2 separate regions of the Homo sapiens genome follow, and region 2 is linked to region 1. Evidence: fine-mapped expression QTL. Tissue or cell type: whole blood. Region 1 holds a variant in brackets; the other region holds the start of a gene. All regions are shown on one strand. Distances are between the middles of the regions.

Region 1 (8,059 bases):
GGCATGGTGGAGCGCACCTGTGGTCCCAGCTACTTGGGAGACTGAGGTGGGAGGATCGCTTGAGCCTAGGAGGTGAAGGCTGCAGTGAGCTGTGGTCTTACCGCTGCACTCCAGCCTGGGTGACAGAGCAAGACTGTCTCAAAAAAAAAATTTTTAATAAAAAATAAAAAATGAGGACCCCAGTAGGAGCTGCAGTGGACAGGGGGTGTGAGCGTGGATCCAGCTGTATCAGAGTATAGTCCTGCCCATCAGGGGAGAAGAGGCGCTTGTCTCAAAGTGAAATGCACAATTGGTCTCGAATGCCAAAGAGAACAGGAAAAGACAAAAGACTCCAGTGGATGTATGGACAACCCAAGAATGTTTGCAGAAAGTCGACTTGATTTCCCTCGGTTCATAATACCTGGAAATAAGGAGTATGAAAAGCAGCTGCGTGTGTGCTACAATTTTGGCACAATTTGCTCAGTTTCAATGGGTCTATTCCTAATTGTTTTAAAGGTGCTTATGCATCCTCTACTGCCAAGTACTGCATTTGCGTCCAAGCAGGATTTGGTGTTCTGTCTGCTAAAATGCTGCCTGGTCTTGGAGTATCTGGTCTGCCCAGAAGCAGGGTCAGCAGTAAGCGGTGATCCTTCCCTCTGCCCTGAAAGCAGACCCTGGCTCTCACCGAAGTAACCAACAGGGATTTGCACAGACTCCGTCATGTCCTTGACTATTTTTTTAAAAAAATTAAGATCTTGGCCGGGCACAGTGGCTCATGCCTGGAATCCCAGCACTTTGGGAGGCTGAAGCAGAAGGATCACTTGAGTCCAGGAGTGAGAGACCAGGAGAGATGGTAAGATTATAGTCTCCACAAATAATTTGTTAAAAAATTAGCCAGGCATGGCCAGGCGCGGTGGCTCATGCCTGTAATCCCAGCACTTTGGGAGGCCGAGGAGGGCAGATCACGAGGTCAGGAGATCCAGACCATCCTGGCTAACACGGTGAAACCCCGTCTCTACTAATAAAATACAAAAAAATTAGCCGGGCATGGTGGTGGGCGCCTGTAGTCCCAGCTACTCGGGAGGCTGAGGCAGGAGAATGGAGTGAACCCGGGAGGCGGAGCTTGCAGTGAGCCGAGGTTGTGCCACTGCACTCCAGCCCGGGCGACAGAGCAAGACTCCGTCTCAAAAAAAAAAAGAAAAAAGAAGAAAAAGAAAACAAAGTTCTTCATTCCAGAAACATTAAGGTTCTTTATAAAGATGTTAATAATTTCTGAGGTTATTTAAAATTATGTATCATCCCTTCAATTAACACAGACGGACAGGTCAAAACCATTCCTCGTTCTGTCACAGCAAGGCTGCCTGCCTTCCTCAAGGAACCTATCTCTGGTTCAACATTGACTCAATACTGACCGTGCCTCCACCAAGTCACACCCTAAACTGCACCGACAGATGAAGCTGGACCTTCCGAACGACCATCCCCTGTGACTCCCAGAGGGCCCATGTCGGTGGTCACATTCTGTTCCCAGCTCACCTGCGGGGCTCGGGGATGTATCACTCAGCCTCGGCGTCTACACCTCACACAGAGCGGCAGGAAGCGTGGCCTTCCCAGCCGAGGCGGAGTCGGCAGGGCCGGGGGATGCTGGCGGGAATGGGTTCTCGCACGGCCTCCTTCTGGGAGCCCGGGAGCTCTGTCCCCCACTCACTGTCGCGTATGGGGCTGGGGGAACAGCAATCGGATCCTCACGAAACAGTGACGTGAGGCCCAGTAGAGGACGTGACCTCCTCCAGGCCGACGCTCTTGGTTCTGCGTGAAATGAGCCGATTCCACCTTGTCCTCAATGGCGGCTTCTGCTCCCTCAAAGCGGCAGGCCAGGAAGTGGGGAGCCCCAGGTGTGGGTGCAGCAGGCTGCAACGCCCCCCACACACAGACTTGGCCTCAGACAGCTGTCACATGGCACCAGGGAGGTGGCCAGGACTCCAGGACACATTCTGGTCCAGTCCGGCACTGACCGGGATGAGGGAGAGCTGGCTGCGGCCGCCTGGCTGGGATACTTGGGGGGAAAGCCCTCCCTAGCTCCCCCGAGGCTGGCTGCTGCGAACTGACTGAAGCGCTCATTACAGGGTGTCCACTCTCCCCGGGCTTGGAACTCGGAGGCGAATGTCTCCCCGAGCCTGTTTCCCTTTCGTAGACGTCGGCAGCGGCTCCGTGTGAACCTGCCGTCTCCTACATCGCGGTACAGTTTCTCAAACAGATCGCGCAGCTGGGGCCAAGCCCAGGCTGTCGTGCCTGAGGACGCATCTTCTTTTATCGGGCATAGGCCCACATTCAGGGTTCGGGGTCGCAGGTCCTGCGGGAGCAGAGCCTGCAGGGCCCCCTCAGGAAACCTGTGCTGATGCTGTCCTGAGCTCCCTGTGCCCGGTCTTCCACACGCGGGGAGGACACCCCCGTGCAGACTGCGCCCAGGGGAGGAGACCCACCCAACACCCACAGGCCCTGTCGGTGAAACCTCAGAGACAGGGGTCTTGGGTTTGGGCTCTGAGGCTCGGGACACAAGATTCAATAAGAGCAAAGTCATCTCCTCTGGAGTGAGAGGCTGCTGAAAACGGAACCCAGGCTTTCCTACAAAGCGCCCAGGAGCAGCCCCGCAGCCCTCCATGTGCTCAGTGCCTGTGGCCCTGGGGCTGCTGCCCACTCCTCTGCTGCATCTGTGACAAAACTCCGAGACACCCGCTTCTCAAAGCCCTGCATGAAGGTTACGTGTGGTCACGAAGAGATCCTGCAAAGAACAGTCATCGAAAACTTGGAAATAAAGTAAACAGGCACCCTTCGCGGCCTCTGCCTGATTTGCAACTCAGTAGTGATGACACCCCATACCCCGTGACATCCTAAGTCTCCTATATGCAACCAAAAGAAAAGCAAATGATTTCCATCCAGTAGCAAAGAGAACCCCAAGGGGCAGCGTTTCCCGGCCCTGCGGAACTCGAAGAAGTGCTGTAACTAACCCAACAATCTATCCAGCCTCCTCTCCTCAGTGACTCTAAACACCCAGTTCCTCAAATGTTCTCTGAGCCAGGTTTCCTGCCCATACCACGACAAAAATGAAATGAAATTCTGATGCACCCCCCAGCCCGGTGAACCTCAAAGACACTATGCCGAGTGAAAGCCACCAGGCACACACAGACAACGCCACGGGGTTCCACTCACACGCGGGCACAGAGCAGGACAGTTCAGAGACAGGAAGCAGAACGGAGGTTTCCAGGGGCTGGGGGAC[T/C]GCGGAGGGGAGTTGGTGTTCAATGGGTGCAGTTTCGGTCAGGGATGATGAAAACGTTCTGCAAACAGAGGTGAGGGTTGACAGCCATGGGAATGTTCTTACTGCCACTGAACTGTGCGCTTAAAAAATGGTTAAAATGGTGAATTTCATGTTGTGTATATTTGACTACAATTTTTAAAAAATGTATTGGCCTGGTGGTGGCTCATGCCTGTAATCTCAGCACTTTGGGAGGCTGAGGTGGGTGGATCATGAGGTCAGGAGATCGAGACCATCCTGGCTAACACGGTGAAACCCCTTCTCTACTAAAAATACAAAAAAAATTAGCCGGGCGTGGTGGCGGGCGCCTGTAGTCCCAGCTACTTGGGACTAGGCGGAGAATGGCGTGAACCCAGGAGGCAGGGCCTGCAGTGAGCCGAGATCGCGCCACTGCACTCCAGCCTGGGCGACAGAGCGAGACTCTGTCTCAAAAATAAATAAATAAATAAATAAAATAGCCGGGTGTGGTGGCGGGCGCCTGTAGTCCCAGCCACTTGGGAGGCTGAGGCAGGAGAATCGCTTGAACCCGGAGGTGGAGGTTGCAGTGAGCCGAGATTGCGCCACTACACTCCAGCCTGGGTGACAGAGAAAAAAACAAACAAAAATTAGCTGGGCGTGGTGGCGGGCGCCTGTAGTCCCAGCCACTTGGGAGGCTGAGGCAGGAGAATTGCTTGAACCCGGAGGTGGAGGTTGCAGTGAGCCAAGATTGCGCCATTGCACTCCAGCCTGGGCGACAGAGCAAGACTCCGTCTCAAAAAACAAAACAAAACAAAAAAAGCAGAAGAGAAACATGGCCTTTGGCAAAACAAACAAACAAACAACAAAAACCCTAACAGGGCACAAAGGACATTGTTGATAAGTCGTGCTTCATTAAAATATTGAAAAATAAAGACCAACACTAAGAGAAAAAACAAGCCGAGAAGGACAGACCTTTGCAACATATGTATCTTCAGCAAAGGGCGTGTGGTCAGAGTATGGAAAGAATTCTACAAATTCTACAAATCCATCAAGAAAAGGGAAACGCACAGAGGAGGGAGGGGCAAGAGCCCAGAACAGGCCCTTCACAGAGGAGAAGGTCCCCAGGCGGTGACACCTGAGCAGGGGGCAGCTGTGTGGTCACCCGGGAAATGCGAGGGGACCCCAAGGACTCTGGCCACCCCCACACCGGGGAGCAGGCAAGGGGGCAACAAAATTGTGCTTAAAATTATTTATAAAGTAATAAAAGGTAAGTGAAAGTAGTTTGAAAAGTGAATAAGGAATCAGTGATGAATACTGACTTGTGCTTTATACGCAAAGGTGTGCCTTTGGGAGTGAAAACCACGTAAATAATATCAGTCCAATCATAGTTTTGTTTTGGGTTTTTTTGTACTTCTTTTTAGTAGAGACGGGGTTTCACCATGTTAGCCAGGCTGGTCTCAAACTCCTGACCTCGTGATCCACCCGCCTCGGCCTCCCAAAGTGCTGGGATTATAGGCATGAGCCACCGCGTCCGGCCCAATCATACTTTTATAATCACGAGGTTTGCCGTACTATCTTTAAACAATCCATGCACGAGTTTACAGACACAGTGGTAGAGAGTGGGATGGACCAGGCACCCACTCAAACCCTCATCCCCAAGGCCGGGTGCATACCCACCACCTGGCAGGGGTCCCCAGGACCCCCACCCCCCGCAACCTTGTGGCCAGCCCCACTCGCCTGCAGGCCAGAAGACGCCAGAATTCCACGAAGCTCAGTCCCTCGGAATGCAGAATTCATGAGGGGGACAGGCACATCTGGGGGCAGGTTCTCCAAATAATTCTGGCTCTCTCATTTCAGGAACTAAAGGCCCAGGCTTTTCCATTTAATCTTTAAATGGCAATCCTTAATACAGGTTTTTCCATTTAATCCTTAAAGTAAGCGCAGGAGAAATACCATTACCCTACTGTACAGATGAGAAAACTGAGGCTTGGAGGTGGGACGTGGCCCGCTCACTGGCCCTGGAACCGTACCTGGATGCATAGACGGGACTCCAGGGGAATGTACTCCTAGGCCATAAACCTGTGCGAGGCAAGAGGGGCCAGCCCAGCCCCGACATCGGGACAGAAAGGGGCGTGGGAATGGCTGGGGGACAGGTCAGGCACCTGAATCTCAGCCACATCAGAGCTGAGCAAAGCGAGCCCCTCAGGCAGGGCTGTCATCACGAGTGTGGCACCACAGCCACCGCCGCATCCTGGTCCCCAGTAAGCACCCCCAGCGTGGTCCCCTCCAGGAACTGAGGCTCTCAGGGCAGGGCCTCTCGCCCCTTGTCCAGGCGACCTTGTGGGTAAGCAGGGGAAGCCAAGGCAAACTCAGGAGCACACACCCATCCCCACGGGGAGCAGATGCCCTTAGCACCGTCGCCGGCATGATGCCGCGCCGCCGCCGCCCCTCTCCGATTCCCTAACGGTTCCCGAGGGAGCACTGAAGGTAAATATGTTAATTTGACTTCAATCATAGCTTCTTCTTTTTTTTTTTTTTAAGTGCACACGGTATTAGTTTAGGGCACGTAACCTGAAATCTACTCACGTATGTCTGTGCGTCCCGTCCTTAACAAGAGAAAGCTTGAGCTCTTGCCAAGAGGGCTAAGGGCTGAAGAGGCTGCAAGGTGCAGACATCCTCCCAGGGTGGGAACTGCACTCTCTGAGCTGAGGGGGAGACCAGGGAGAGGCAGGGCACTTGCCCAGAGTCCCACACCCAGGAAGGGCTGCCTGGCACCCAGCCACCTTCAGGCCTGATGGAACGGGGTGCCATCCTCTGGCTTCCAGGCAGGAGACACTCCTACAAGCACAGGATGCCAACTGCAGAAGCCAATGCGTGGACTCCGGGGGCCCTGCAGGTGCAGCCAAGGAACCAGGATCTCCAGACAGGCCCCAGGCTGTACAGGCTGGACGCCAGCAGGTGGGGCAGCAAGCCCCTCCTCACCCGCAGGCATGGGCACCCCATGGCCTGCTGAGAATGACACGAAGGAACAGGCTGACTCACTGAGTGGAAAGGCCACTTGGCCCTCAACCGAGGGCAGAAGAGAGGCCAGAGGCCCCCCAGAGCTCCTTCCTGGGGCCCTGCCGTGGCCGGCACTCCCCGAATGCACTCCAGGGTCACCAGAGCCCTGGAGCGTGGCTGCAGAAGCCAGATGGGTCTCAGGCCTCCCACTACCCATTCTGCGACTAGGAATAGGAAAGTTACGAAATCTTGAAGCCTGTAAGATTTCAGGCCACCAGGACAGGCAGCAGCCGGGGAAGTCTCAACTTTCCAGGACCCCAAGGCCCCAGGGGCCAGGCCACAGCCGTGCTGTGGAAGGAGCCGCTAGCCCTGCCACCTGTTCCCCAAGGAAAGCTTTTGGAGCTGTTCCCCAGGGAGAGGCGGCCCTCCTGGAGAGCTACAGATGGGCTCTGCTGGCCATGGGGCTGCCTGGGCCAGGCCTGGGGCTGACCTGATAGCCCACACCCTTGGCCACCCACTGTAGTCATGGCCCAGCTGGCAGAGACACACAGTCCCTACCCCGGGCGTGGCTGCCAGCCAAAGCCCATGCCACTGTGCCCCACAAAAGCCAACGGTTTGACCACAAGGGCCTCCTGGCAGGGCCCTGTAGCCACGCCACACCAGGGATGGTGCCAGAGCGGTACTGCACCCCCAGCCTGTACAGCCTCATCCCAGCAGGGCCCCCGCACCCATCTCTGTGCTCTCCTTCTCTGAGCCCAGGCCCCTTCGCTGCCCCTACATGGGATGCCACCTCTCAGGGCATCCAAAACCCAACCCAGGTTCTAGGAAAATCCGCCCAGCAGCCCACTGCAGTGGGGTATTAAAAACGTCTCTATTAAAAATACAAAATTAGCTGGGCGTGGTGGCGCACGCCTGCAATCCCAGCTACTCGGGAGGCTGAGACAGGAGAATTGCTTCAACCTGGGAGGCAGAGGTTGTGTGCTGAGATCGTGCCACTGCACTCCAGCCTGGGTAACAACAGCGAAACTCCATCTCCCCACTACCCTGCTCCAATAAAAAAACTCCAACGCTACTGCCAGCACACCATCCCCCACCCCACAGACCGCACAGAATCAGCCCAGGAAGGACACTCCACGGAGCTCTTGCTTATCTGATTTGGAGGTCGTGGAGTGTGGGTTAGCTGGGGGTCTCCTCCTCTCCAGACACGTGGAGACGGGGGGCCGTGACACACACCCAGACCCCAGCGGAGTCACTGCAGAGGATGCAGGGAGAGCAGACGGCAGATGACCACAGGCCGGCCTGTGCCCGGCGCAAACTCCAGCCAGCTGCATCAGGCCCCCAGCAGAGCCGCCCCTGCGTGCTAGGGTGCCAAGCCCCAGCCGCTCGAGTAGGTCGGGGGGACACAGGCCTGGGACAGGTCCAAGGTGGCAGCCCCTCCCGCTGTCTCCCACCCCAAGCACATTCTGATTAACAGAGGTGATGGAGGAGGAAGTTTTCATCCCAGAACCCCACGGGCCCAGGGTCACGGATCACGAACGGCTGCGGGGAGAAGAAACGCGCGTTTCCCATATTTCTCGTAACACAGGAAACCATTCCCAGAGGAGGAAGCCCAGACCAAACGGACCCTCAGTGGCCACTCGGGGACTCTCCAGCCACCCAGGCCGCTGGAAACCCAGGGGAAGGAACCAGGTGGACTCAGTCCCGACGGGCACTGGGGGCTCCGCAGGACAGGGCAGGGGTCAGCATGCCTGGGCTTGAACTGTAGAGTAACCGGAACGACCTGCACACCACACACCCCCAACCAAGATGAAG
Region 2 (8,059 bases), 42 kb after region 1:
AGAACAGGCAGACAGGCCAGTGTTGCTGGAGTCAGCCCCTGGCTCCCAGGGTTCCCCCCAGGCCAGCCCCTGAGCTGGGAGCCTGCTGAGGCCCCTCCCACCTGAGCCCTTCTCCGGCCCCCCGCTAGACTGCATCTACACAATCCAAGGGGACCCTGAAGGCTGGCTGGGGACTCAGGACCCACACAGCCCCTCAGGATGACACACACAGGGTGGTCCGCGGGCAGTGCCAGGCCTCAGGCGGCCCAGGGCAGAGTAAGCAGCTTTGTGGCAGTGTGGTGTGTCAGCGAGGGGAGCCTTCCGTGTCCCGTTGGCTGGGGCTGGGGCCAGGGCACGCAGAAGGGGCTGTGCAGCCAGGAGGGCCCCCCTCCGGAATTGCTCCTGGGCACACAGCCCTCTGTGTCCAGGGGCCTCCCAGGGTGATGTCTAAAGTCCCTGGCAGCTGTGGTCCTGGAGAGAGGCCCACAGAGAGGCGGAACGGAGGGCCCACCCCGCAGTACGACCCGAAGACATGTGAGCAGGAGCCACCGGCAGGTGGGCGCTGCCCCTGAGAGTGCATACGGGGAGGGTGGGTCCAGGAAGCCAGCCTAGGGGTGGTGTCCGCGCCCCCATCACAGAAGTCTCAGCCCTTTCTTTTCTCTCCGTGGGCGCCGGGCAGCAGCGACTGCCTGGGGGATGGGCGAAGGGAAGGCGCTGGCCGACCCCACCCATGGAGAGAACACAGCCACAGGCCGGGACGATACATCAAGCTCGCACCCACGGCCCTCACATGTCCACGAAGACCATGAAGCACCAGCCCAGGCCCCCGACCAGCAGCATGGTGACGTGGATGCCATAGACGAGCAGCTCGTTCACCAGGCGGAAGTCCACGCGCCGGCGGCCCAGCAGCAGCAGCAGCACCGACAGCTTGCGCTGGAAGCGCAGCAGGACGCGAACGCCCAGGTACTGTAGGCAGAAGAGGGCGGCCAGCGCACCCCAGAGCGCCGCAGTGAACAGGCTGCAGCTAAAGTAGAGTAGGAAGCGGATGAAGCCGTACAGCCAGCGCGTCTTGATGTACACGTCGAAGTTGTTGTACTTGGTGCGGGCCAGGTGGGAGGCGCGCACGGGCCCGCAGGCCGCATGCAGGCAGGTGGTGTGCGGGCCGTGGAAGGAGCGCACCCGCCGCGGAATGGGCATGACCGGCATTGGGCCCCGGCGGCGGCGGCGCTAGGTCGCAGTGGCGGCGGCGGTGTCCAGGCGGCTGTTGGCGTAGGGGTCATGGGCGCCTAGGCCTGGGAGCCCGCAGCTGACCCTGGGGGGAGGCGTCGGCCTGCGGGGAGAGCCGCAAAACCCACGTCAGTATGAGGACACCATGCGGATCCCTCCCCAGGCAATCAGCTGGCGAAAGTGGACACAAACTCCAGCACCAGGACTACGGGAAAATGGAGTCCAGGGCGGGATCTGCAGGCACTCCTGGGCTCTTTTCCACAAACCCTCCCAAGGATACTTCCAAGGGGCCCACCACCTGGGGAAGCCAAAGTGCTTGTTCTAGGGCAGCACTGGGGAAAGGGGGCCTTGGGGACAGTGGCCAGGGGAGGCCCCCGGAAGTGGTCAATGCCAAAACGGATGGGAAGGGGCAAGAGTGGCTCTTTCCTGCAGGATCCTCGCAGCTCCCCACTAGCTGGACCACACTCTGCTCTTAGGCAGTTTGCCCGTTACTGCCCTGGTCTTCTGCGGCTGCCTGACCCAGGGCTGATGCAAGCCCTTAAATGGCATCTGCAAGAAGCCACCACAGGGCCGGGAAAAGGGACTCCAGGGCTCGCAGGTGAACCGAAAACGAGCCCGGCGGGAGCAGGTGACTCCAGCAACCTGCTGGGTGCCAGATGGACGGCTCGGGGGCCGTGGGGTCACCTTGCTGGGCCTGAACCCTGGCACTGTCCTTCCCTAGCAGTGACTTTGGGCAGGTCACCTGACCCCAAGACGGCTCCTGCTCTGTCCAATGGGGGTGCCAATAGCACTGCCTTTGTGGGTAGCTGTGGGAGGGAAGGGGCTGGGCCTGGCGTGCACAGTGGGGTCGGCCCGGGGCCTGGCAGCGGCCCTTACAGACTGGGCTGCAAAGAGCAGAGGCGGCATTTGGCTCTCCAGCTTCACCTAGTAAAGGCCGTTTATACCTTGCCGAAATAATCTGTAGACGGAATGAACTCAAAGGTCAGGAAATAAAATCTGAGCAGGAAAGTTGGTAACATTACAGGGGACTGTTGCCAAGAGCTTCGCCTGCCTTCAGATTCAGCCTGGGGCCCTGCCGTGGGGACCTGGCCAGGGCGGAGGAGGGAGGGGCCGGGGCCGCCTGACCCTCCCGTGCCCGCAGGGGCCCGACCTCGCCCTCTCCCTCCGCCCGGCTCCTCCACGGGGTGCAGGGGCCAGAGCGGCCCTATTTAAGGCCGGCCTTGGCCTGGAGCTCGCCCCGGCCGGGACCCCGGCCATGGCGGTGCCACTCAAACGCGACTCGGCGGAGCTGTGTCCCCGCAGGGTCTCGCGGCCCGCGGCTCCATCCGGGTCCCTGCGTTTCTGCAGACGCCCGCTCGGCCCGGCCCATGGACCCAGGACTGTTTCCTCGGGGCCGCAGAGACGCAACGGGCCCCGGCCAACTCCGCGTGAGCACCGGGCCTGCGCCGCGCCGCGCCGGGCCCCCTGGCTGCAGAGCCCCTGCCGGAGCCACTTCCGGGTCCCGCGCCGCGCGTTGCCCTGGAGACGGCCCCCGCCTAGGCCGGGTCCCCGACCGCAGCTCACCCGGTGCCCTCTCCGCGGCGGCGCCGGCGTCCCGGACCTCGGGGCCGGCCGGCGGTGCTAGGGGCCGGGCCTGCGGGTGCCCCTGTCCCTCGGGGCTCCGTGCGCAGGGCGGCCGCATGGTGCTGGGGCGCGCGGCTGGGGGCGCTGGCAAGGCGGCTGAGGGCGTGGTTCACGCGTCGCCGGCTGGGGTCGCCCTGCAGGTGAAGGGGCTCTCGGGCGCGGCCGCCGGAGGCGTTTGGCCTAGCGTGGGAGCCGTAGCGCCGTCCCTCGACGGCCACCGTAGGGCGGCCTCACGCCCCCTCCACCCGCGCCGACCGAGCCGCACTTCCCTTCCCCCTGCTCCGGGCCCGCGCTGGGCGTCCCGGACTCGTCGCTTCCCGAGGGCGTGCGTGCGTGCGTGCGTGCGCACGCTGCGAGCAGTCCGTAGCGTTCCCTCCCCCGAACGCCCTCGGTGCCGCGCCTGGTCTTCTGCGCCTGCGCTTGCCGTTCCTGGGCCGCGCCTCCGCGCACGCGCTACCGCATCCCGTGGAGAGGCAGTGCGCAGGCGCGCTTCCGTGGAGCAGTCCTTTGGCCCCAGCAGAGGGCTTGACCGTGGTCCTGGCCCCGGACTGAGGTGTCTGCGACCCGGCGCGCTGCTGCCGTCGCTGGGGTGGGGCCGGGCCCCGGAGGAAGCCGCTTTCCCGGCGGGGGTGGGCGGCCCAGGGACCGGGAGCAGGTCTGGTCCTCGCGGGGCCGTGTGCGAAGGCCTCCTGCGCGGCCTGGGGCTGGGAGGACAGGGCGGCGGCGGGAATGAGGGCGCCCCCCAGGCTCCAGGAGGGCGGGGAAGGGTGGGGGCGGCTGACGCCACGCGGACCCGGGCGGCACGGATCGGGTGTGTAGCTGCGAGGCCCGGTGGGCCGGCGGCGACGTCGGCAGCCGAAGTAGGGACAGCCCCGGAGCACGAGCAGGCCCAGCAGCAGCCCCAGGGCCGCCCCCCCGCCGCCCCCCAGTGAAGGAAGGGGACTTGTGTTAGTGTCCTCACGCCTGGTTCGTACAGGCTGGCGGTTGTCCTGGGGGTTTCCAGCGAGGAATGTGTTGGGGAGCGCTCCTGGGTGTGGCTGCTGGGTAGGAGGGGAAGGCAGGGTCAGCAGCCCCTGGGGCGACCGTAAAGTGGGTGGCCCTTCAAATTCAAGGCACTGGAACAAGGGGGCTGGGCCCTCCTGCCCACCAGGCCCGTCATTGGCTGCAGGCCTCCCGGGACGGCGAGCTGGCTCCTGGGCCCCTGTCCTTTGGACCAGGGCCGCCCTGAGGGCTGGCACAGCTACCTTCTCCACTGTGGCCCCATCCCCGCCACAGGAGAGAGAGCCGCCTTTACCCGACATGAGCAGGAGTTCGAGGAACATCTGGACGAGCAAAGGCCACCAGGAGGTAGCACAGCAAAAAAGGCCAAGAGCCTGTTTTCTTTACCGATGGCTGGCGGCAAATATTCCGAAAGAAACGTGTCAGGCAAGAAGCGCTAGTTCACGCCTGTCATTCCACCGCTTTGGGAGGCCAAGGCAGGGGGATCACTTGCCCCAGAAGTTTGAGACCAGCCTGGGCAACATAGTGAGGCCCCTGTCTCTACAAAAAACTTAAAATCAATAAACAGGTCTCCTTCCTTCCTCAATAGTCCTGTTGGTGGCTCACCTCTCTGCCTCTCCAGATGTGAGGCAGATCCACACGTTTAGCTATTGAGATAAGGCTGGGCGTGGTGGCTCACACCTGTCATTCCGGCCTCAGATCTCTTGTGCCCAGGAGTTTTAAGACTAGCCTGGGCGACCTGGCTGGCAACATGGCCTCCACAAAAATAAATAAAACATTTTAAATATATAAACATTGAGATAATAGCATCTTGATGCCTGTCTTCATTTTTTGTCTTCTGTTTTAAGGACTATTAGAGACAAACTAACCAAAGATAATTCTCCCCTCCCATGTGGCTCGTGCTGGGACGCCGGCACCGTGAGATGGCGCCCGTGGCCAGATAGAGGGTGGCGTGTAAAGCAGGTGGTCACCCGTCACTCGACTTTTCGCGTGCTGGTGAGGGTGGTCGCATGTCCATGGATCAGGGCTCACACCTGGCCCATCTGGTGGCTGTGCCATGGGAGGAGCAGAGCCACAGCCCCGCTCCTTGCTGTGGGTTTCCCGTGTCCTCCCTGCCCTGCAGTCCCCTGACTCCAGCTCTGGATTAGACACCCCCTGCTTCCCACTGTGCACCCGCCCAGAGAAGCACAGCATGCGTGCCTGCACTTGCCCCCACGCTGCTACCCTGCTCTGGGTACCAAGGACACAGGCACAGCAGAGCCCCCACCCTCGAGGCACCTGTCATCTTGTGACAGGGACAGGCTGAGGGGCAAATGACCAGAAAGGGTGGCAAGTGCCATGTCAGACATATGGTCTTCATACAGGGGATGTCCCAGGACTGCTGGGCCAGAGACCCCTCCATGTGGGTCAGCATCACCCAAGCCAAAGGCCAAGGAGGTCTCTTGGGGGGTGTGGCCGTCAGAACAAAGCTGCCAATGCGCGTACTTTTAAAGGTGCGGTCAGCTAGTGAGGCTGTGGCTGGCCCTGGCTGCATCCAGACCCTGGAGTGTCCTGCAGCCAGGGGCGGATGCAGGTTTTGTGGGGCCTGAGGCTTCTGTGGTTTAAGGGACCTTCCTTAAGAAAATACAAAATTAGGAACAGGCCTTGAAGCTTCTGCTGCTAAACAGGGTCAGGTGAACCCACTGCCAGCTGTGCCCAGAAGACAGTCCCCCAGGCTGAGTCAAAAGTGGTTCATAGGCCGGTCATGGTGGCTCACGCCTGTAATCACAGCACTTTGGGAGGCCAAGGTGGGCAGATCTCAAGGTCAGGAGATCAAGACCATCCTGGCTAACACAGTGAAACCCCGTCTCTACTAAAAAACTACAAAAAAAAAAAAAAATAGCTGGACGTGGTGGCGGGCGCCTGTAGTCCCAGCTACTGGGGAGGCTGAGGCAGGAGAATGGCATGAACCCAGGAGGCGGAGCTTGCAGTGAGCGGAGATTGCGCCACTGCACTCCAGCCTGGGCAACGGAGTGAGACTGTCGCAAAACAAAGAAAAAAAAGAAAAAAAAAGTGGTTCACAAAGTCACGTCTAGTGTGACCCCTCATCAGCACAGACGTACTCCTAGGTGTCCGTTTCTGGGTGAAGTCCTGGAAGCAGATAAATGTTTGCAGAGGTGATCTATGTGTGGTGGGATTAAAGAGATGAATATATTTTACTGTTTTTTTAACATTTCTGTACTTTCTGATTTTATTTTTTCAGCATGAACAAACAAAAAAAAGCCGGATTTGGACAAATAAAAAGAAGTGCATGTCAGCCCGAGTGTCCTGAAACATGTTCCTGTATTAGAATCTCCAGGAAAGCTGGGGCCCCCACTCGCCACTACCTCAGGCTGGGCCCGCAGTCACGTGCTTCTCCCTACAGGAGGGTTCTGTGTCCTGAATTCCCAAAGGGTGCAGCTGTCCCCTTGTCGCCTTGTCTGTGTTGATGGTTCCACACTCTCTGGTCAGCCACCTGCCCCGCCAGTCTCTGCTCGCCCATGGATGGGGATGACCACTCTAGCTGTGAGGGTGGCTTCCCGGGCTAACCCTGCTGCTGCTGCCCATTGCTTCCAAGGCTGGGATATCACTTGGGGTTTGGGGTGAGGGGACAGTAAGGGGGAGCCCTGGTTGCCCTTTCCAGGAGAATGAGTATTTAAGTGCGGAGTTGTTTATTACTTGACTTCAGCAGAGGCGCCATGGTCGGGGAAACGCTTCATGTGCCTTGGGTTATAGGGCAAGTCCCATCTGTCTGCCTTGAATTTCGGTTTGGAGAATCTGTAAGCTCCACACACGTGGAAGCGTCTGTGCCCCGGGTGTGGGTTCTGATCTTGGTTGTGTTCGTGGCTGGACGCTGTCCTTGAGGCCACCCCTTGGCACCCTTCACAGAAGACAGTGGGGGTCGCCCTTCCCTGGCTGACCCTCCAGAACCGCCAGCCTCCCCTACCTCCCTGTGAAACCAGGGTACAGGGCAGGAGCCTGGACCTCTTTACAGTTGCCTTTTCTCTCTCTCTGTCCCTTCTCCATCTTCCGAGCTCCTACTCGCCCTTCAGGACCCAGCTCGAATGCCCCATCTCTGGGAGGCGCCTTCAATCTTGGGCTGCCCCTTCCGTCACACCCCCTGTCCCCTGTCTCCTGCCTCCCCTTCCTCCTCACACAAAGCCACCCCCGCCTGTTGGTGGCCTGTGTCTCCGCTGGCCCAGGGCTCTCTTGCCGTGGCCACCGTGGGTTTTGGCCTCGTGACCCAGTCCATGCGTGCACAGCGCAAGTAGCTTCCCAGGACACCGATTTCCTCCCCGGCCGCAGCTGCTTCTGGTCCTCTGCCCACTCCCGGGTTCTGCGCCTTCCTGCGCCCCCGGCCTGGCCACAGCTCGGTCACCCCAGAACCACCGTGTGCTGGGGATTTGTCACGGGTTTGTCCTGACGTGTGAGGTCCAGCCGGGGTCCCCATAGCCTCCCTGTCCCCGTCCCTGTCCCCGTCAGGCCTCCTGCTGCGCTGTGGACAGTGGCTTGGCGCCATCTGCTGGGCTGGTGCCTGTGGTGCCGCCAAGCGCAGGAGGGACCCAGCGGCTCCAGGTCTGTGGGAGACTTTAAGTTGGGGCCGAATGTGGTGCTCGCTGCCGACGCAGAGCCCCCAAGCTGGACGGGACCCCTGGCCGTGCGGCTGGGAACACCTGGGGTTGTCCTACCTTTGCAGGGACAGCGAGCCAACCCCTGCTTGGAAGGAGCACTTTCCCCACCGAGGCCGGCCCAGGGCGCGTGCTGAGCAGGTGGGTTGAGTGGGTGGAAAGAATGCAACCCCTGGTTGTGGGACATGTTGAAGCCCACCCCAACCCCTCCAGTACCGTCCTTCTGTCCCTCCACTTGCTGGGGCTGGGGGCCAAGGATGGGGTCACTGTGGGGACTTTATCCAGCTGGTTGACTTCAGGGTCCTGGCAGGGAGTGGCTCTTGCTGCCAGGACAGTAGAGGCCTAGAGAGTCCTATCTCTGACACCAGCCACCTTGCAGGGTTCGGGCCAGGGAAGGGGAAGGGATGGGAGAGAATGGAAACCTCCAGAGTCATTTTAACTGGTCGTTGGACAGAGCCAGTGCGACTTCAAGTTCAATGACAAACCCCCTCTCCATGTCTCTGGGGTGGGGTGGGGCCTGTGGCCCCACAGAGCTGAGCCACCCAGGAGGCCAGGGAAGGAGACGCAGTACACAGGAGGCCAGG

Evidence for each region. PIP is the estimated chance that this variant, and not a neighbour inherited with it, causes the effect.
Region 2: TMEM250 starts here. The variant in region 1 is fine-mapped to the expression of TMEM250 in whole blood (TOPMed, PIP above 0.99).

The regions. Positions count from the first base shown.
Region 1 is chr9:136,073,288-136,081,346 of GRCh38, forward strand. All of the region lies in intron 1 of NACC2 (NACC family member 2), which reads right to left. Among named protein-coding and RNA genes, the nearest start is that of NACC2, 18 kb to the right of the region's middle. RefSeq lists enhancers at 1,349-2,099, 7,452-8,059. The variant T/C (reference allele first, on the strand shown) is at 3,254.
Region 2 is chr9:136,115,716-136,123,774 of GRCh38, forward strand. TMEM250 (transmembrane protein 250) reads right to left here and starts at 3,160. Exons shown (of 2, transcript NM_152833.3): 1 at 2,770-3,160; 2 at 1-1,309. The coding sequence starts at 1,185. The coding sequence ends at 766. LOC107987142 (a long non-coding RNA gene) reads left to right here and starts at 2,077. Exons shown (of 2, transcript NR_165242.1): 1 at 2,077-2,187; 2 at 6,071-8,059. RefSeq lists enhancers at 1,106-1,681, 1,682-2,257, 3,411-3,987, 3,988-4,562 and silencers at 2,274-3,323, 3,354-3,743.